Linked DNA regions of Homo sapiens. The protein of the gene in region 1 purifies or fractionates together with the protein of each later gene. This does not show direct contact. Each region holds a gene or a part of one and is shown in the gene's direction. Other genes may lie near its edges.

Region 1 (4,113 bases):
CACGCACACAACCGTACAATGCATGCACGTTCACACACACATGTGCACACACACCCCACTCACATGCACACATGCACACATTCACACATGTGCACACACATACACCCACACACATTCACATGCACACACATGCACACACGCACACACATTCATGCACATGCATACATGTGCACACACACGCACCCACACACGCACAGATGCACACATGCACATTCACACATGTGCACACACATACATCCACACACATTCACACACGCACACGTGCACACATGCACACATTCACACATGTGCACACACACATACACGCACATGGGTGCACACGTGTACGCACCCACATTCACACATGCACACACATGCATACATGTGCACACATTCACACGTGCGCACATACACACATTCACCCACACATACATGCGCACACATGCACACATACACATGCATACATGTGCACACACATGCACACACATCTACTTCCAAATACGCTGTGTATCACCTTCCGTGATCTGGGCAAGGGAATTAAACTCATGGGCTCTGGGTCCAAAAGCTGAGAGAGGCTCTGAGGGCAGGTCTGGGAGACTCCAAAGAGCAGGCCGACTGCATCATCTGTCCTCCCAAATGTAAGACAGCTTTGCCCAAGGAAGGATGTGCTGTTGGTGATTACTCAGCACCACCGGCCTGAGGTGGGACTGTCCAGGCAAGATGGGCCATGGCCGCCCTGCTTGCACGGGGGTCTGTGAGCACACAGACCAACTTTGGGGATGTGTCTGGCTGCTTGGGCCCTGCCTGACCTGGGCATAGACGGTTGCTGCGGGCCCTGTTCTGTGGCCCCAAAAGCAGCACATGTTCAGAGTCGGCAGGGGTAAGGTCCAGGCTGTCTGGCTCAGGCAGGCCCTCTGTGGATGGGCCCCTCCCCTACGCAGCCCCAGCACAGGGGAGCCCACGGCGGCGTCCTCAGAATGAGATGCTGGGGGAGCAGGGGGAGGATTGTTTCACCCACTCTTGTCTCCCCGCGTCCCCCGCAGCAGCTCCCCGACGGCTGCAAAGCCCCCAGGCTGGTCTCACAGCTGCACTTCACCAGCTGGCCCGACTTCGGAGTGCCTTTTACCCCCATTGGGATGCTGAAGTTCCTCAAGAAAGTAAAGACGCTCAACCCCGTGCACGCTGGGCCCATCGTGGTCCACTGTAGGTACGCTGTGGGGGCCACGGGGCGGGACCCTCAAGGGCAGGCCACAGTGGGATGACTCATCCTCATGGGCAATGCCAGGGGACCAATATCAGGGTGGGCAGAGGTTTGGGCAGGGCTGATGTGAACACAAATGTCAGTGACTGAGCCAGGCCCCAAGAACCCTACAGGAGAATGTTCAGAGAGCCCCCTCTTCATCCCAGTCGATAAAACCCACCAAAGCCAGGAGGCTCCGGTTGATGGTGGGAATGGAGTTCTGGGCAGGTCTGCTTGGCCGCCCTCACCTCTCCCCGGGAATCCCAAGTCACCTCTGGGAACCAAGATGGAAATGAGAGAAAGCCCCCTGGTTTCTACAGGAAGCCCCCCAACAACACACAAGTCGTTATGGAAGAGCACACCATGCTCAGATGGGCCCCCACAGCAGAGTCTTCCAGAACACGCTGTCCTGGAGACCAGGGTCCGAGGACCAGGCTGCCCCTCGCCAGCTGCCACTTCAGCCTCGGTTTCCTCACCTGTGATGGGAAGGACAGCCTCGGCGGAGCCTGTGACTGGCATCTGGGTGGGCTTTGCACAACATGAAGAATTACTCAAATGTACAGCCAAGGCCACCCCACAACCCCCTGTCCACAGAGAGCCCCACTTGTTCCTGGCAGTGATTGGCCTCACCAGGGTATCACTTTGATTAGATACTAAGTTTCCATCTGTTACAGACAGGTTCATTCTGAGTATCACAGCACTGCCAGGGACAAAAGCCACCTGCACGCAGTGATGCAGGCGCTCTGCACCTGTCATGCAGGTGTTCACGAGAAGCCGTCCAGGAACCCCCGAAGAACGGGCTTTCCCCAAGTCTGAGCAACACTCGCTTGCTGGGGCCAAGCAGAGGCTGGACCCCACCCCACCCACCCTCCAGTGTAGCTCATACTGGGAAGAATTTGCAGGGTCAGATAACAGTAATCTGACAGATGCCACCTCACTTAATGCCCCGAGTCAGATGACTTGGTTTGCCCAGTTTGACAGAGAGGGAGGCTGGATACCAGAGCTGTTGCATAGTTGATCTGAGGTCCCTCTGCTCCCAGGGGGACAGATCTAGGATGCCAATCACACATATAAGAAGAAGACACTGTTTGGTAAGTGAGAAAAATTCTCCACACAGCCTAATCCGAGGCTTACTGCACCAGCTGTTAATGTGCCTCTTAGTAGAGTGTCGGTGGCTATCAGAGGACCGGCCTGAGATCACTTTACTGAGACCACAGCTCCCTCTGGTGGCTGCACTGTAGCTTTGCTCCTAATTAACCAAAAAAACAAAAAGTTGCATCCAGTGACCTGGGTGCGCAGGCCCCTTCGGGGCCTTTCATTTACTTCGGGAGGAGTGTGACTCACGACGCAGCATCTTTCTCTTTCCCCAAAGCGCGGGCGTGGGCCGGACGGGCACCTTCATTGTGATCGATGCCATGATGGCCATGATGCACGCGGAGCAGAAGGTGGATGTGTTTGAATTTGTGTCTCGAATCCGTAATCAGCGCCCTCAGATGGTTCAAACGGATGTGAGTCATGCCTTCCTCTTGCCCTGATCTAGCTTCCCAAAGCAAACCCGATGCCTTCGCCACACAGGTGTGCAGGGCCCTGGCTCTGATGGGCACGTGGCAACCAGCCTGGGCCTGGCCTGGCTTCGCTCCCCATAGCCTTCCCTGCCCACGCGTGGGACCTCAGGGACTCCCTCGTCCTCATCTTTCCCTCGTATCCTCATGTGAGATGGGGCAATCCTACTCCCCCAAACGGTGCATGTACACAGTGCGTGGCGTGCTCACCAATGTGAGGCTCTGCTGCTACCGTTCTCCTTACTCAAGGGCATAAATGGTCGTTATCCGTGGCCGGTACTCTGACTCTTGCCTCACACCTCCTTGTGTTGGCAAAAAGAGAAAAAGAAGAAAGCCGCCCTCTTTGGTCTGCCAAGCTCCACGTGGGCCAAGACTGCAGGGCAGAGTTGAGGGTGTGGGCACCCCTGGCCTCTCTGCAGATGCAGTACACGTTCATCTACCAAGCCTTACTCGAGTACTACCTCTACGGGGACACAGAGCTGGACGTGTCCTCCCTGGAGAAGCACCTGCAGACCATGCACGGCACCACCACCCACTTCGACAAGATCGGGCTGGAGGAGGAGTTCAGGGTGAGTACAGCTGACCCTCCTCTCCATCCTGGTGTAAGCAGCCAAGGGCACGAGGAAAACAGGTGACCATTTAAAGGAAGCCTCTTTCAATCACTTGCCCCTTAACTGACCTCAGAAAAAGCAGGGGCAATACCTGAGCCATGATTTACAAGGGAAGAAGGATCAGGTGGCTTTCAGAGCCTCATAGCAGCCCTACTAGGCACACATTTGTATTTCCCAATGCTAAGGAGGCTTCCTGGGTTGGAGAGTGGTTTCCTTTGAGCAGGCGTCCTTGCCAGCAGCACTAGTCCTCGGCTGAGCAATGTGCTCAGGAGTGTCAGAGGTTTAACTGTGTCATTATATCCTTCTCTGCTGCAGAAATTGACAAATGTCCGGATCATGAAGGAGAACATGAGGACGGGCAACTTGCCGGCAAACATGAAGAAGGCCAGGGTCATCCAGATCATCCCGTGTAAGGCACCCGTGGCGTGGCTTGGGCAGGGCTGGGGCGGGGCTGGTGCCGGAGGCTTTCATCCTGGAGAAGCCATTGACCGCTTACCCCTGTGCACCAGGGTCAAAAGCAGGGTGTCCTCTGGCCTCAGGCTAAGGGCTCCTGTGTGCTGTACCAAATGTCAGGTAGAAAAGACACCTGTGAAGCACCAGCTGACCCAGACAGTCCTGCATGGGTCTCAGGCAAGCTGCTTCGGATATGAGCTTGCAGATGCGGGAGGGCAGCCGAGGCTGATTTCAGGGGAGGGCTTCACAGAAGCTGGAGATTTGCGGC
Region 2 (3,407 bases), on another chromosome or scaffold:
GCCTGTGAGCAGCGGTGCAGCAGCCCTGGCCTGATGATGAAGGGCTGAACTAAGGCAGTAGCAGGAGGGGTCAAGGAAAGCTCCCGGAAGCAGGATTCACAGCACTGAGTTGATGAGGGGAGGCCAGAGACACTAGTGGCACTGTGGCGAGTGGGCCTCCGAGTGCTGCTCTGAGTCCCGCCCCAGTGCTGCGGATGAAGAGCGCGTGCCTTGCTTTGGCACTCGCCTGCTTGGCCTTGTCTTGAGCCACTGCCCCATTCTCCACATCTTCTTCAGTGTGTTTGTCATGTTCTCACGTACCGCGGGGTCCTCCATCATCTCTCCAGCAGCCGCCGCCTCTGGTGTTCTGAAGGATGCACCTTCTGCTTTGCTTCCTAGCTCGCCTTCCTGGGTTGTAGTCATGGGTCTGTGTGATTGGTTATTGAGGGTCTGAGTCTCAGGACACTGGAAGGGGTGGGAGCCTGCCAGGACTAGGCCCCACGGTGTTCTCAGCATGGACGATAGGCTCGGCAAGTAGCGGCCGAGTGAAAGCCTAGTTAAACGAGGAAAACAGGCTGGGTGTGGTGGCTCACGCCTGTAATCCCAACACTTTGGGAGGCGGAGGCAGGTGGATCACCTGTGGTCAGGAGTTTGAGGCCAGCCTGGCCAACATGGCAAAACCTCATCTCTACCAAAAATACAAAAATTAGCCAGGCGTGGTGGTGGGCGCCTGTAATCCCAGCTACTCAGGAGGCTGAGGCAGGAGAATCACTTGAACCTGGGAGGCGGAGGTTACAGTGAGCGAGATCATGCCATTGCTCTCCAGCCTGGGCAACAAGAGGGAAAGTCCGCCTCAACAACAACAGCAGCAGCAGCAACAAAAAACAAAGAAAAAAAAACACAAAAAAACCCCACAGATATTACAGTGAGAAAAGGAGGGTGGCTTATACCGCAAAGCTGTGGGGATGCGTATTCCCCACCCCCAATGCCAGGAAAACTAGAACTGTCACATTGAATCCATTGGTGTTCAGAAAGATTCCAGGGACGGTCTAGGGGGGTTTGATTCTGAAAGGGAGAGCATGTGGTTTTCAAACACAGGAACACGCACAGCTGCCCCTTCTTGGGCCTCGGTCTTGGATGCAGCCCCAAGCTGTGCAGTGTGTGCCCAAGGATGTTTCACCGAGGCTGGGCTCATTCTCAGCTTTATGTCTGGAAGTGGTGTAAGGCCTATGGTGTTATAAATTCTTGTATATTTACCATAACACCCATGTTTTTATTCAGTGATTTTTCTGGAGTTTGCCTAAGAAAGTACAGCACCTAATGTTTGAGGTAATTAATAATTCTGTTAATTGGCGAAGAGAAGGATAGTCTCAGTTTTGATGTATAACATCCTATCCACAAATACTTGTAAGTAGTTTAAACCTTTGTCTCAGAAATTAAGTGGGTTTAAACAAATCTTAGCCTGGCCAGGCGCTGTGGCTCATGCCTGTAATCCCAGCACTTTGGGAGGCTGAGGCAGGTGAATCACCTGAGGTTAGGAGTTTGAGACCAGCCTGGCCAACGTGGTGAAACCCTGTCTCTACTAAAAATACAAAAAATTACCCGGGCGTGGTGCCGGGCACCTGTAATCCCAGCTACTCAGGAGGCTGAGGCAGGAGAACAGCTTAAACTGGGAAGGTGGAGGTTGCAGTGAGCCAAGATTGCGTCATTGCACTCCAGCCTGGGCAACAAGAGTGAAACTCCATCTCAAAAAAAAAAAAAAAAGAAAAAAGAAAAAAAAAACCTTAGCCTTTGAATAGTTGGACAAATATTTATTTTATCTCCATCTCCAGGCCCTTTTTTTATTTTTTATTTTTTGGTTGGGCCTAAAACCCGTTTATATTTCTCCCTGGTGTTGTAGGTTCATTTTGTTGGCCTGTGATGGGCTCTTCAAGGTCTTTACCCCAGAAGAAGCCGTGAACTTCATCTTGTCCTGTCTCGAGGTGAGAAATCTCACACGGGGGTGGTGGTTGTCCCAATTGTGTCTTAGTTTTCAGAGAAGTAGAAGTTCTGAGACCCCATTTCCTCCCATTGTGGGACAGCCCTTGTGCCCTTTTTCAGTGTGAACTCTGCCTACTGACTCACTGGTCAGTTTGTCCTGCCAGCCCTGATGGAGACCAGAGCAGCTCTTCTTCCTGGCAGTCATGTCTCAGGAAAGTGACAGGGTGCGGGGTCACTCCATTCACTCATTCCCTTTCTCATCTGGTAGGATGAAAAGATCCAGACCCGGGAAGGGAAGTCCGCAGCCGACGCCCGCTACGAAGCAGCCTGCAACAGGCTGGCCAACAAGGCGGTGCAGCGGGGCTCGGCCGACAACGTCACTGTGATGGTGGTGCGGATAGGGCACTGAGGGGTGGCGCGCGGCCAGGAGCACGCATGGTATTGACTTAAAAGGTTCATTTTGTGTGTGTGCACATTGTGTGTTTTGTGTACTCCTGTGGGACTCCCATGGTTGTAAATAAAGGTTTCTCTTTTTTTTTCCTAGTCTTTTGAGTTATTATACTGTGAGCACCTCTTGACCCTTCAGAGATTGTGTTTGCTTTTGAATATGCTGTCTTTCCTTGTTAAAACCATTATAGGCATCTTGGACTGGCTCGTAGTGGCCTGCAGGCTGCTGGTTGTGTGATGTTTTGTAGTTCACGGGCATTTTGCTGTGCTTTCACTGTCATGATGACCCTGGTTGGGGAAGTGGCATGTTGCAATGAAGAGACCCAGGGGATGACTGGTTAGTCAAGGCTAGGCCCAGACCAGGGCTTTGGGAACCCTCTAGCTCTTTTCAGTTTTCCCTATGGAAATAGTGTTGCAAAATGTTACATAGCATGAGCTCAGGCTTAGCCAGGAAATAGACTCATAGACAAGGTTACTCATGCATCAGACCTGCCAGAAACAGTACAGAATTAGCCATTCTCATTCCATTGGTGAGAGCTGCAGTCTGGTGGAAGGAGTCTGTGGAGGACTCGGTTCAGTGGCTTCCATCTGGACTCCCTGGGTGTAGGTGTGCACCTTCCTGTTGGAGCAGGCAGCCGGCTGCTCAGCATGGCCCGGAAATTCTGCTTCCCACGTGAGGTAGGTGTGGGGAGTTGGCCCTGTGCTGGAATGAGGTTAATCTTTGCAATAACACCTCAAAGGGGGACACTTCTGTTAAAGATGTTAAAAGCATGAAAAGAGTGCATGAAGAATAATAAGCTCAGAAGAATAAGCTTTAAAATACTTTTCAAGCACTTGTTTATATAGAAAACGTCATCATTATGACTGTAAGTAGTTTTTAGTAAAGCAGCTCTTGGATCCTTTTGTGTAAATGTTTGGCTCAGGATGATGTAAGATTCTAAAAATTTGCGTTTTCAGAATCTGTTTTGTAATGTTCCCTGGCCCCCACCCAACACACACAC
Region 3 (4,113 bases), on another chromosome or scaffold:
TACAGAACATAGAAATGGTGGTGTTGATGTTTATATAATACATCCAGAAAGAAGTAGAAACTTAAACCTAACTTTAGAATTAGCTTTATAAAGCTACACATACAAATGCTATAATATGTGAGATTGATTGGGAAAACCAGGAATTGAATTTTTTTTAATAATTCTTGCTTATCTATCTCTCTCTAGTTATTGTGACCAACTGAAAGTCTCAGAGAGTACCCACGTGCTCCAGCCCTTCCTCCCCAGCATCCTTGATGGCTTAATTCACCTAGCAGCCCAGTTCAGCTCAGAGGTCCTCAACCTGGTGATGGAGACCCTGTGCATCGTTTGTACAGTAGACCCCGAATTCACAGCAAGCATGGAAAGCAAAATCTGCCCCTTCACCATCGCCATTTTCCTAAAGTACAGTAATGGTATGCTGCCAGGGAGGATGTATTATGAGGGGCACCAAAGAAAAGGTGGTGGCTGGTGAATTTAAATGAAAGATTCCCTAGGTCTGGTCTTAGCTATGAAGCTATGGTTTTAACATCGTAAGCAAAGAATCTGGCTTTCAATTAGCAAAAAATAGAATTGTGCTGTAAATGTAGCAGCATTAAAAAATAGAGTACCTATTTCTGTAACACTTACTCTCTAGTAAGGACTTAGGGATAAAGATAATAAATAAAGGGCTAATAAGCAAGAGACATAATTCAGAACTTTGATGATAGAATAGGAAATTGGGCAAATGAAAAGCCTCCTAAAAGAAAAGGGCTAGGACTATAATTTAGAAAAGGAGATACTAAAGAAAGATATATGGAAAAGTTTATAAACAAAGGTATTCACTAGATATTTTTTACAGTAGTAAAAATTTGGAAATTATAAAAAGACATTAGTTAATTATATCCATAAAATGAAATACTGTGCAGCCATTAAAAATCAAGCTTAAAAGGAATATCTGAAACCATGGGAAAGAGCTTACATTATAATAAATGAAAAGATACTTTTCCCAAAAAATCCATAGAATATGATCCCAAGTTTTGATTTTTCTTTTAGAAAAGCATGTATGTATAGATAGGTATGTTTTAAAAAAAAATACATCAAAATGTTGAGTGTTTAGGTAGTGGAATTACAGGTGTTTTCATTATTACTTTTCTGCATTTTAAGTTTTTTTTTTCCTGTAGTGAATGTATTTATTAATACCTTATTACTAGTAAAATATTAAGGATTCTTTTTTTAAAGAGAGAGCTCCAATATTGAAGCTCAGAAAGATGTACAGGATAAGGATTATTTATATAATGTGATATACTGAACATGTTATTTGATAGCTTTTTCACTGAAAAATGTGTACTGAGGAGCTTTCCACATTGTGTTCTTGGATATATCTCATTCTTTTCAGCCATTACTAATGTTCCATAAAATGGGTATATCATAATTTACCCATTCTGTTAATGGACATCTAGGGTATTCCCAATTTTTTTCTATTACAAACAATGCTGCAGTGATCTTTTAAGGTATACTTTAATGCACATTGCCTATATTTTTCCATACTAAATAGAGGAGGATGTTTTGTTCTATAGATAAAGAAGATTGAGCTAAAGTTCCCTTTCTTCATAAGGCTCTGCTTTTTAGGAGTTTTGCCTTTTGCCCCAGAAGTAGCTTTGAGAGTTCTTCATGTCTACCGTGGCTACCCCATAGGAGATATGTATGATTTCTCTCATGCATCAAAGCCAGTGTTTTGGCAATTTTTGCAGCTTTCATGTCTTCTTAAAGTATCAGTTGGGCTTTTTTTTTTTTTTTAAGCATTTGGTTTTATAACGTAGGTTTCACAAGAATAAAGACTTTAAAGATTTTTCTCTAGAAAAAGCCACATTTTGTTTTATGAGTAGCTGTTAATGACTAGTCCCTACTTTAATGAAGCCATACAAAGTGTACCTCTTGCAGATTTAGGATCTCTCCTGTTCTTTCAGGTTATTCATGTGGCCCCACTAGGTCCCGGGTATGTGATAAGTAATCAATGCAGAAGTTGTTAACTTAGGTTAGGGCCAAACAACAGGCATCATTAAGCGAGAAGCAGATGCAGACCATCAGGCAGGGGGATTCCGTGTTGCCTTATCCACTTCAGATCCCGTCGTCGCCTCACTGGCTCAGGACATCTTCAAGGAGCTGTCCCAGATTGAAGCCTGTCAGGGCCCAATGCAAATGAGGCTGATTCCCACTCTGGTCAGCATAATGCAGGCCCCAGCAGACAAGATTCCTGCAGGGCTTTGTGCGGTAAGTGGCCGTGTGTGTGTGTGTGTGTGTGTGAGAGAGATCTACAAGTGCCACCCACAGATGCATCTAGCTGACAAGAACCTAATAGCGTTAGAGATTCATGGGGTGATTTTGCTGAGCTCTTTTGCCTGCAAGGACAGTGGGTGATTCTCTGAAGCTTTAAGAAAATGGCTTGGCTTGGCGCGGTGGCTCATGCCTATAATTGCAGCACTTTGGGAGGCCGAGGTGGGTGGATCACAAGGTCAGGAGTTCGAGACCAGCCTGGCCAATGTGGTGAAACCCTATCTCTACTAAAAATACAAAAATTAGCCGGGCATGGTGGCAGGCATCTGCAGTACCAGCTACTCAAGAGGCTGAGGCAGGAGAATCACTTGAACCCAGGAGGCAGAGGTTGCAGTGAGTGGAGATCGTGCCACTGCACTCCAGCCTGGGTGACAGAGCGAGACTGCCTCAAAAAGAAAGAAAGAAAGAAAATGGCTCTTCTTGTTCCAGAGGTACCCTCAGTGAATTGAACAGAGTGCCACCTTTACACAGTGCCACTAAGTATGTCACCTGGTTATCCAATCCACTACCATGTACTACTGCCCACCCCTATGGCTAATCAATTAGTAAGCTATTATGAGAAGGCTGAGAGTACTACCCATTTAATTATTCCTTTTATTTTGGAAACTTGCCTTTCATTAATAAGCTTTCTCTGGGTTGCTATGTAATACCCATCCAGTAAGGATCTTGGTTGTTGGGCAACCCCCACCCCAGAGGCAATTCTGACTTTTCTTTTTCTTCTCTCTTTCAGACAGCCATTGATATCCTGACAACAGTAGTACGAAATACAAAGCCTCCCCTTTCCCAGCTTCTCATCTGCCAAGCTTTCCCTGCTGTGGCACAGTGTACCCTTCACACAGATGACAATGCCACCATGCAGGTATCTGAGACATGGAGAGTAGAAGAGGGAAGATAGCTCCCCAGCCATGGGCTTATACTATGCTGAGAAATCTGACATGGTTTTATGCTTTTGAAATACGGAATTCTCAACTCCATATTTACTTAGCAGATTCAGGAAGGGTTCAGTCTGCAAAAGCCAAGCATTTCTGGTGCTTTGGAGCATGTTACAGTTTTTAAAAATATGGATACCAAGCACCCTGCCCATCTGTATTGGGTATTGCTACTGTGAAAGAGGTTACAGACATCTAGACTTGGGGCCATAAGAAAGTCTTTCTGCATATTTCTTCTAGTAATAAAGTCAGCAGAGTGATGGGCCTCTAGAGAGGGGAGACATGCCTGAATATTTTTTCTCTTTTTGTTTCTTGGGTGAATTGGTTACCTTTTCAGGTGTCTGCTACTGTGATTGATTAGAAAGGTTATAGGAACTTGCCAGTGAATATTGATCAGCTTGGAAATCCCTAGGCAACTAGTGGTTTGTGTAAGACCTATATAAAGACCTACAGTATCCCCAGTTATTCCAAGATTGTAAGCATATTTTTTTAGTACCAGAGGTAGACCTTTATGATTAAAATTCATTTTGCTTGGCCATTGTCCCTTGTGATTAAAAAAATATATATACACATTTGTGAGATAGCTGATTAGGTAAAGGGGGAATTATGTAATGCACGTCTATGTCTGTAACAGTAAATGTCTTAACTCCAGTGGTATGAGCCCACCACAAACATTATAGACTCACCGCTTTTATGAGGCATAGGCCTCTGGGAACATTTGTTTATACAGACTGAGGGCCTTCTGGCATCTGTCCCTCGATTACTAATCTTGCTTGCCACCCCTGTCTCCCCAGAATGGCGGAGAGTGCTTGCGGGCCTATGTGTCAGTGACCCTGGAACAAGTAGCCCAGTGGCATGATGAGCAGGGCCA
Region 4 (4,113 bases), on another chromosome or scaffold:
ATATCTCAATAAAAATGTGTTGCAAGCAGGTTTGCCTTGGGCATCTTTCCTTATTCCTTTCAGTATTCCACTTCTTTTCACACCCTTTCCCACATGTTAGATGTTCCCAGTCTGCTCATTCAGTTCGGGCTCCCTTCCCTGGGAGGCTGTCTTCAGCTCAAAACTTTGCCAGTGATAAAACTCCATTCAAAACTTATCTGCCAAGTGGCCATTTTTACTTGAAGCCCTGCCCTTGGTCAATGACAGTGCAAAAACTGGATAGTGGCATATTAATCAAATAAGTCATTTTCTCCCTAGGTTAAACCATAGGGAATATCTGCTTTCAACCCTTTTGGCCTCCAAAAAAAAAAAAAAAAGCATTTTGTATGGCTTTTCATACCTCATGGTGTCCTAGCTTGAGCACTGGAGCAAAGTCAGAAAATCTGAGCCCTTGACTTATCTCTGTGGTTCACTGCTGGATAATGTCCAGAAAATTATTTCATGCCTTTGAGCTTCAGCTTCCTTATCTGTAAAAAGGAGAGTAACTACCTTGACTTCTTGCTGAGATTTTAAAGAGAACAAATGTGAAAGCACACACAATCACCATTTGCAAAGGGTAAAGTGGTAGATGGATGAAAGGAATAATGATCTGTAATTTTTCCTTACATGCTAGCCTATTTAAAATGTATGAGCCTCCATGATAAGTGTGGCTAATAGTGGGGGAATGTAGATGATCTAGAGATACCGGTCAACCTACAATGTCAGCTTTATGTCATTGTGCCCCTTTCTTCTTTGGGGTTTATATGACTATAATATTTTAAAAACCAAAACCTTATGGGACCATTTTATAATTTGTGTCATATGAAATTTTAATTTTGCTATTTATAGTGAAAGGGAAAAAAGGAAGTGGAGTATATAGGATATAGATCTCTAACCACTAAAATAAACCTGTGAGTAAATGCATTTTAAGCTCTTCATGCAAATACATATATATATATATATACACACATATATATACACACACACACATATAATTACTGATTAAAAATATATATAAAATCACATATATATACATATAAAACCACTTGGCATTCAGGTTGTATAAAAATGTTGATTTTTATTCAAGAATTGTAGAGTAGATGGAAATTTAATGTACTCAATGTAATCTCTATTTGGGATGAGATTCTAGGGGGAATTAAAATTTACATAGGAGTTTCTTTGCCTGGTTTAGTCCATCCAGAGGCTTCAGATGGTCTGGGAACCAACTAAAGTTGTGTGGAGCAATGTAAAAGTCAGTATATATGTTTCTTTTCCCCTGGGGAGGGATTCAATAGATTTCATCGTATTCTTAAAGAAATTCTTGTCCTACCAAAGGTTAAGAACTAATTATCTCAGTTAAACAAAACACATAAAAATATGTTTTTATATACATGTTGAATTATTCAAATCTTCAGTGCTTAGTAGTTTATTAATCTTGAAGGCCTAGAAAGTGAATAATTTCAACAACTGAACAAAAATAAAATTTAAAAAGAAACTATTTTCTGGTCATTAGAACAAACTTGTTATAAAATATATGTCTTTTTGCTATTGCTTCTCCACTTCAACACTCATGATCATGTTTTGTTGCTATTTCCCCTATCTCATTTTTTCTGGCTGCTGGGTTAAACTTCCTGTTTTTGCAGAATGACCAAAAACATTGGTGATGATGGAGGTGGAGATGACAACACTTTCAATTTCAGCTGGAAGGTCTTTACCAGCTGGGACTACCTGATCGGCAATCCTGAAACAGCAGACAACAAATTTAATTCTATCACAATGAACTTTAAGGTAGAGGCACCAACTTCAAAAACCTGCTGTTTGTATTTCTAAGAGTAAAATTGGAGGCATTCCATCTGGTCCAGTAGTGCAGTATCTTGACAATTTACATGAAAGATTAACTCATGGTTTCTGCCTACCAAGATCTTGCCATGGTTCTGATTATAACTGGAAAATCTTCCATGACCCACAACAGCACTATTATTCCTTAAACACTTCTCTTCTCTAAATCTGGTAATAAAATAATGTTACTGGATTGAAATAGGACCATGAGTAATCAGAATAAGATATTTTAAAAACTAGAACAATGTTCACTAATTATTTACAGGAATAAGCATAATATTGAAGTGACCCTAAAACATTATTTTGTAGTTTTTTTTTTAATTCACTGGAATGAAGATTTTTAGAGTGAAGACTATCCTAATATCAGAGCAATCACAGTTTGTTTGCAAGAATTCTTCCTTCTGTCTTACTTGCCATCGTTTGTTGGCAATATTCACCTGGTTTGTGGAATCTCAGATTTAGTTTACATTGTCATTCCTCACATTCTGATGATTGTAAAAATAACTTTTGAGGTTTTGATACTTTTAAAATGTAGCTAAGATATTCTATTTTGGGTTTTTGTTTGTTTGTTTGTTTTCATGGATACAGGAAGCTATCACAGAAGAAAAAGCAGCCCAAGTAGAAGAAAACGTCCACTTGATCAGATTCCTGAGGTTTCTGGCTAACTTCTTCGTGTTTCTAACACTTGGAGGGAGTGGATACCTCATCTTTTGGGCTGTGAAGCGATCCCAGGAATTTGCACAGCAAGATCCTGACACCCTTGGGTGGTGGGAAAAAAATGAAGTTCGTCTCTGCATGCTTTTTATGTGCTTAGAACCTGACATTTGTTTCTTTTGTGGGTTATGTTTCTTTGATGGAACATTTAAAAAGGCCACCCTTTACCTATCCCCTATCCTGCCCTTACAGTTAACCAACCCTGTTGCTCATTTTCCATTCTATTCTAGTCTTATTTCTAAATCTGGACTGTCTGTTTTTCATTTTGTGACATGATGGAAAGTTAGAGTCAGAAAAGATATTAAAAAACACATAGTCTAATCATTATGTTTTACAGATGGGAATGATAAATCTCAAGAGATTGCATTATATGTTTATGGTCACAGAGTTAGGAGAAGAGTCAGGGTGAGAACCTAGGAATCTTGACTTCGAGTCCAAGGCTCTTGCTGCTTTCTCTGCAAATCCTTCATCTGTCATTAAAAGATCAAATTGTTGCCTGAACTTTTTGAAGCAGCCATGATAAAGCCACTGATTCCTATGTTGATCTCACTGGAAACACTCAGATTGCTTCTCCACCTTTGGGCATGTCTGGGCTTCCCTCTGTTTTCATTAGAAGCCTAACTGCAGCATCTCCATCTCCATTTCCTCCTGTCCTGTACCTTACTTTCTCTCCCTCTAAATGCTATTCAAATGAAGAAGGCCAGCTCTTTTCCAGGAATTAAACATTATGACCGTAATTTGCCTTTAGAGTATCTGCCCATTTAGTGAATCAGAGAAAGGAGGTTAGACATAGATCATTTAGAATCAGAAAATCATTGGTCATGAGTTGTTGCTAGAGTCTGTTCCCGTTCATAAAATGCTTATGTGTATGATGTGACGTCATTTTGAGCTTGGGCATTTTCAAAGTATGTGCAGATTTAGGCTGTGGGAAGTGTAGACTTCCCACACTGAAACTTTTGCAGAACAGTATAGATCAAAAGAATTAAAATATGTCTTTATAAGCATAGAATTTTCTAAAAAATCTTGGACAGCAAATGATATAATCTACTTACAGAAAAAGGTTCCAAATAACATTCTGAGTATTTCAGAAGTGGTACCAATAGAGACGGGACTAGATATTTTAAAGACTTTAATATACAGTCATGTCATAAAAACTTGTAAAATATAAGTAATTTAGCAGAGGGCTTTTATTTATTTAAAATGAAAAATGTAGGAACACCTCAAAGCATTTACTAAGTTTGCTTTCAAAATGGTCTCATAATTGTAATAGTACATAGAGGTAACATTATCATGCAGCTTTGGTCCATTATTTATATTGGTTATGTTTTTGTATAAATAAACCATATTAAAGGATGGGTAGTTGATTATCAATAAAATAACTATTCTTTGTAAGAACCTCTTTAACATATATTTTAGGGACCCTCTGAGTCCTAGGGGCCAATGAAGGTAATAATGGAGATTCATGAGTAACTTTACAAATTTGATAAAACCAAATTTAAATTTGCCTTGCATAAGTTTGCACAGGATAAGCCAAATTTTCTT
Region 5 (4,113 bases), on another chromosome or scaffold:
CAGTGCTTCCAGTTGATGTGCAATTTTCTTGTCTATTGGAGATACTTGTCACAAGATGTTCACTACTATTTGTCCATTGCCATGTGTGAAACCTGCATCTGGTGCAACATGCTGATGGGAAGAGTGCCTGAAGTAACTCCCATTTTCCCAACAGTTTGGTAGAGAGCGTATGGACTTGGTGCTGCATCCATTCTAGAGTACTCTTGCTCCTTGTTGGCACTGTTACTTGTGATTACAAGGCCCTGAATTCATAAACTTAGAGATAAAAAACTTCCTCGAGCTTTGACCTTTTCAGTTACTTAATATTTTTCAAAATTCATATCATGCACTTGTACTCCAATTTTAATCTCTTTAGGGAACTTACATGATATAATTAAAGACTTGAAATACTCTCCTGTGTAACAGTAGATCAGATAAGGTACACAGTATGTTTTATCTTTTATAATCACCGCTTTAATAGCAGATGTGCTATTAAATAGGAAAAGTGCCCTTCACGTGCCATTTTATAATTGCATATTATAAAATGATCACACCCTTAACTCATCCTCTGCAATTTCTCAGTAGTATGGCACTTGACAAAGCACTTGCTCTCATTCTTCATAATAACCCCATGAAGGCTGCGGGGCATTTTTGTGTTGTTGCTGCTGTAAGAAAACAGGTTTGATTATCTAACTGATGGAATTTATATTTATTTAACCTATTTTTAGGAATGACCCCAAGTTGCATATATTCGGAAGCCTGCATTTAATGTTTTAACTGTTTTTCTATTAAGTTTACTGATTTGTTATAGGTTTGCAACTCTCAGAATATTTTGTTTATATTAGCAGGGCATTGAGATTGTTTATTCTAAATGCATTTTTTTGTTTTGCAATCTTATAGGCCCTGGCCTATTTTGAGCAGTTAAAAATTTCCCCAGATGCCTGGCAGGTGTGTGCAGAAGCTCTAGCCCAGAGGACATACAGGTAATTAAAAACAAAATTTGCATGACAATTTAAATTTCTGTGGACATGACAGGACTGTGAAATTTACCTGTATTTGGAAAGTGTTTTCATAAAAACATTTTATGACTTTTTTTTTTTTTTGCAAAGCCATTAACATATAGTCATTCCATGTAGAAATGAGAAAAGTAGTAAACCCAGTTTGGCCATTTCAGAATTAACTTTTCAGTAAAACCATCCTTTGGTATATATTGTGTACCTGTCACCAGATCCCAGCTGGAATAAAGTGCAGTAAAAACTTCCTTATCTTATGATTGAGGGTGATAACTGCTTTCCTAAAACTTTGGTAAAGACGGTGATTGTAAATGATATATATCTTAATTTTAAAATTATTTATTTATTTTATTATTATTATTATTATTTTCTTGAGATGGAGTCTCGCTTTGTCGCCCAGGCTGAAGTGCAGTGGCGCAATCTAGGCTCACTGCAAGCTTCGCCTCCTGGGTTCTTGCCATTCTCCTGCCTCAGCCTCCTGAGTAGCTGGGACTACAGGTGCCCATCACCATGCCCGGCTAATTTTTTTGTATTTCTTTTTGGTGGAGACAGGGTTTCACTGTGTTGGCCAGGATGGTCTCGATCTCCTGACCTTGTGATCCGCCCGTCTCGGCCTTCCAAAGTGCTGGGATTACAGGCGTGAGCCACCGTACCCGGCCTATATCTTAATTTTTAATTTTAACTTAAGGTATATAATCATTCGGTGACCAATCTTTTAATATTGGACCACAGTCTTTATCTTTGTATACTAACTAGCATTCACTTTATTCGTAGGTTGGTCACACCTGTAACCCATCCTCTACAATTTCTAGCATGGGTCTCTGTACAATGAGTGACGATCCATAGATTTTTAAGATATTTGTCCCCGCCTCTCAAGTCTTCTGGTTATATAGGCCATGTCAAATATGTACAAGATTTTTTCCTTCTGCAGTGTGGCTTTCTATGAAATCTTTCTAAAGCATTCAACTAACTTTTTACGGAAATAGGAACTCTCTTATACTCACTTCATTGGCAGATTGTTGGTCTCTAGAAGATCTTTGTCAGTGTTTATAGCTGGCTAACTGCAACTCTGCCACTCCCCTAGAAAGACAGTTGGAAGTGGGTAATTGGTGTGTTGACTTTTGCCCCCATCTTGTATAAGCAAGGGTACCATATTTGTAATTTAGTGTCCTGTACGAAACTTTGAAGTTGGACTGACAGTCCATGTGGCCCTGCTTGTTTTGGATTTGGCTACAATAGAACTACTGGGGTTGAATTTTAAGCAGGACTTGGACGACCATCTTTACTTTCACTCAGACTCTGTCTGTTCTGCCATTTGTAATTTTACACCTAACCTGTTATTGTAAAATGAAGGGACTGTTCCAGGAATCTTAATATCTGGAATTTAGAGGGATGGTTTGCTGCTTACAAAGCATTGTATTCAAGGTGCATCTTAATATCTTGGTTAGTTTGCTTGTCAGATTTAATGGAAATTTTAAATATTGTGTAATATTTAGAGTTCTCATAGCTTTTTAAGTAAATGGATTTTAATGTCATAAAATGAGACCAGTAAGTATGAAACAAGCCAAAGGTCTAGTTTGAGAAACTTTTCTGCTGTATTACTCATTACTATTTTGCCTTTGATTTGTTTTCCTCAGTTCATATTCTGCTTATCTCATTTTCTTTTTTTCTTTTTCAGTGATGATCATGTGAAGTTTTTCTGCTTTCAAGTACTGGAACATCAAGTTAAATACAAGTAAGGCTTTTCTTACTGTTTTGACTCAGATTTGCGGGGAGAGGTCATTTTTTTAATTTAATGTTTTTCTTCCATAAGGAAACCATAATACAGGTTGTAAATTCACAGTGTATATGTTATATCCAGGTTATAGATACGTTTTGATGTACCCCAAAGTGTTTTAAAAGTGCTGAGTTGGCCAGGTGAGGTGGCTCTCGCCTGTAATCCGAGCACTTTGGGAGGCTGAGGCCGGTAGATCACTTGAAGTCAGGAGTTTGAGACTAACCAGCCTGGCCAACATGGTGAAACCCCGTCTCTACAAAAAATACAGAAACTAGTCAGATGTGGTGGCATGCACCTGTAATCCCAGCTACTCAGGAGACTGAGGCACGAGAATTGCTTGAACCTGGGAGGCGGAGGTTGCAGTGAGCCGGGATCACACCACTGCACTCCAGACTGGGTGACAGCGAGACTCCGTCTCAAAAATAAAAAAAGTGCTGAGTTTGTTGGTTACACATAAAAATCCAAGGCTGGGCGCAGTGGCTCATGCCTATGATCTCAGCACTTTGGGAGTCCAAGGCAAGAGGATCGTTTGAGCTCAGGAGTTTGAGACCAGCCTAGGCAACATAGTGAGACCTCATCTCTACAAAAATTTTTTTAAAAAATTAGCCAGGCATGATTGCGCGCTTCTGTATTCCCAGCTACTGGGGAAGCTGAGGCCAGGAGGTTGAGGCTCCAGTGAGCCATGATGGTGCCACTGCACTTCAGCCTGGGCAATACAGCAAGACCTTGTCTCAAAAAAAAAAAAAAAAATGAAAATCCAGATATTTCACAGAAAAATCTAGATTTCCAGCTTTTCTGGAAAAGTCAGAATATCTGGTAACACCAGGCCTGTTTTTCTACATGACAATTCTCTCTTAGAGTTAAGTAGCTGCATGGGCACTTGTGTTCAGAATCTCTGACTTACTAATTAAGCAAAATAACAAATCACTACTGAGAGGATTCCTAGTTCACCTATTGGTTTATTCTGTAGATCACAGACCACAAAACATTTTCATTCGAAAAATTGTGTAGCCATCATTTGTTTCAACATGAACAGAATCACAAATTAAAGATTGATATTGATGCCCTACCTGCCACTCTTGTCCTTATCTTTAAAGCAATGATGAGTGGCATTATCAGTTTATGTTAGGGAACTTCAGATAATTGAGAGCTATACAAATTTTCCCTTTCAAATATATGAGGCTGTTATTTTTTACAACCATAGACACCAAATATAGCCATTATTCTTTTTCTTCTCTATTTTGAACAGATACTCAGAACTAACCACTGTTCAACAACAGCTAATTAGGGAGACGCTCATATCATGGCTGCAAGCTCAGGTAAAATCATAATTTCATTCAGTAC

Evidence for each region.
Region 2: the proteins of PTPRE (region 1) and ILKAP purify together in Homo sapiens (affinity purification with mass spectrometry, with the first as the bait; one large-scale study listed by BioGRID). This does not show direct contact.
Region 3: the proteins of PTPRE (region 1) and IPO9 purify together in Homo sapiens (affinity purification with mass spectrometry, with the first as the bait; one large-scale study listed by BioGRID). This does not show direct contact.
Region 4: the proteins of PTPRE (region 1) and TMC1 purify together in Homo sapiens (affinity purification with mass spectrometry; one large-scale study listed by BioGRID and IntAct). This does not show direct contact.
Region 5: the proteins of PTPRE (region 1) and XPOT purify together in Homo sapiens (affinity purification with mass spectrometry; one large-scale study listed by BioGRID and IntAct). This does not show direct contact.

What each region holds. Positions count from the first base shown.
Region 1 is NC_000010.11:128,067,101-128,071,213, forward strand, and holds part of PTPRE (receptor-type tyrosine-protein phosphatase epsilon isoform 1 precursor), read left to right. Parts: intron 1-1,022; coding exon 1,023-1,186; intron 1,187-1,539; coding exon of another isoform or gene 1,540-1,762; exon of another isoform or gene 1,763-2,585; intron 2,586-2,591; coding exon 2,592-2,727; intron 2,728-3,200; coding exon 3,201-3,350; intron 3,351-3,707; coding exon 3,708-3,801; intron 3,802-4,113. UniProt on the Homo sapiens protein: Isoform 1 plays a critical role in signaling transduction pathways and phosphoprotein network topology in red blood cells. May play a role in osteoclast formation and function.
Region 2 is NC_000002.12:238,169,497-238,172,903, reverse strand, and holds the end of ILKAP (integrin-linked kinase-associated serine/threonine phosphatase 2C), read left to right. Parts: intron 1-1,879; coding exon 1,880-1,961; intron 1,962-2,227; coding exon 2,228-2,368; 3' UTR 2,369-2,502; downstream 2,503-3,407. UniProt on the Homo sapiens protein: Protein phosphatase that may play a role in regulation of cell cycle progression via dephosphorylation of its substrates whose appropriate phosphorylation states might be crucial for cell proliferation.
Region 3 is NC_000001.11:201,866,547-201,870,659, forward strand, and holds part of IPO9 (importin-9), read left to right. Parts: intron 1-186; coding exon 187-413; intron 414-2,101; coding exon 2,102-2,250; intron 2,251-3,043; coding exon 3,044-3,172; intron 3,173-4,036; coding exon 4,037-4,113. UniProt on the Homo sapiens protein: Nuclear transport receptor that mediates nuclear import of proteins, such as histones, proteasome and actin. Serves as receptor for nuclear localization signals (NLS) in cargo substrates.
Region 4 is NC_000009.12:72,786,678-72,790,790, forward strand, and holds part of TMC1 (transmembrane channel-like protein 1), read left to right. Parts: intron 1-1,661; coding exon 1,662-1,806; intron 1,807-2,445; coding exon 2,446-2,640; intron 2,641-4,113. UniProt on the Homo sapiens protein: Pore-forming subunit of the mechanotransducer (MET) non-selective cation channel complex located at the tips of stereocilia of cochlear hair cells and that mediates sensory transduction in the auditory system.
Region 5 is NC_000012.12:64,414,028-64,418,140, forward strand, and holds part of XPOT (exportin-T), read left to right. Parts: intron 1-879; coding exon 880-962; intron 963-2,670; coding exon 2,671-2,727; intron 2,728-4,018; coding exon 4,019-4,088; intron 4,089-4,113. UniProt on the Homo sapiens protein: Mediates the nuclear export of aminoacylated tRNAs. In the nucleus binds to tRNA and to the GTPase Ran in its active GTP-bound form. Docking of this trimeric complex to the nuclear pore complex (NPC) is mediated through binding to nucleoporins.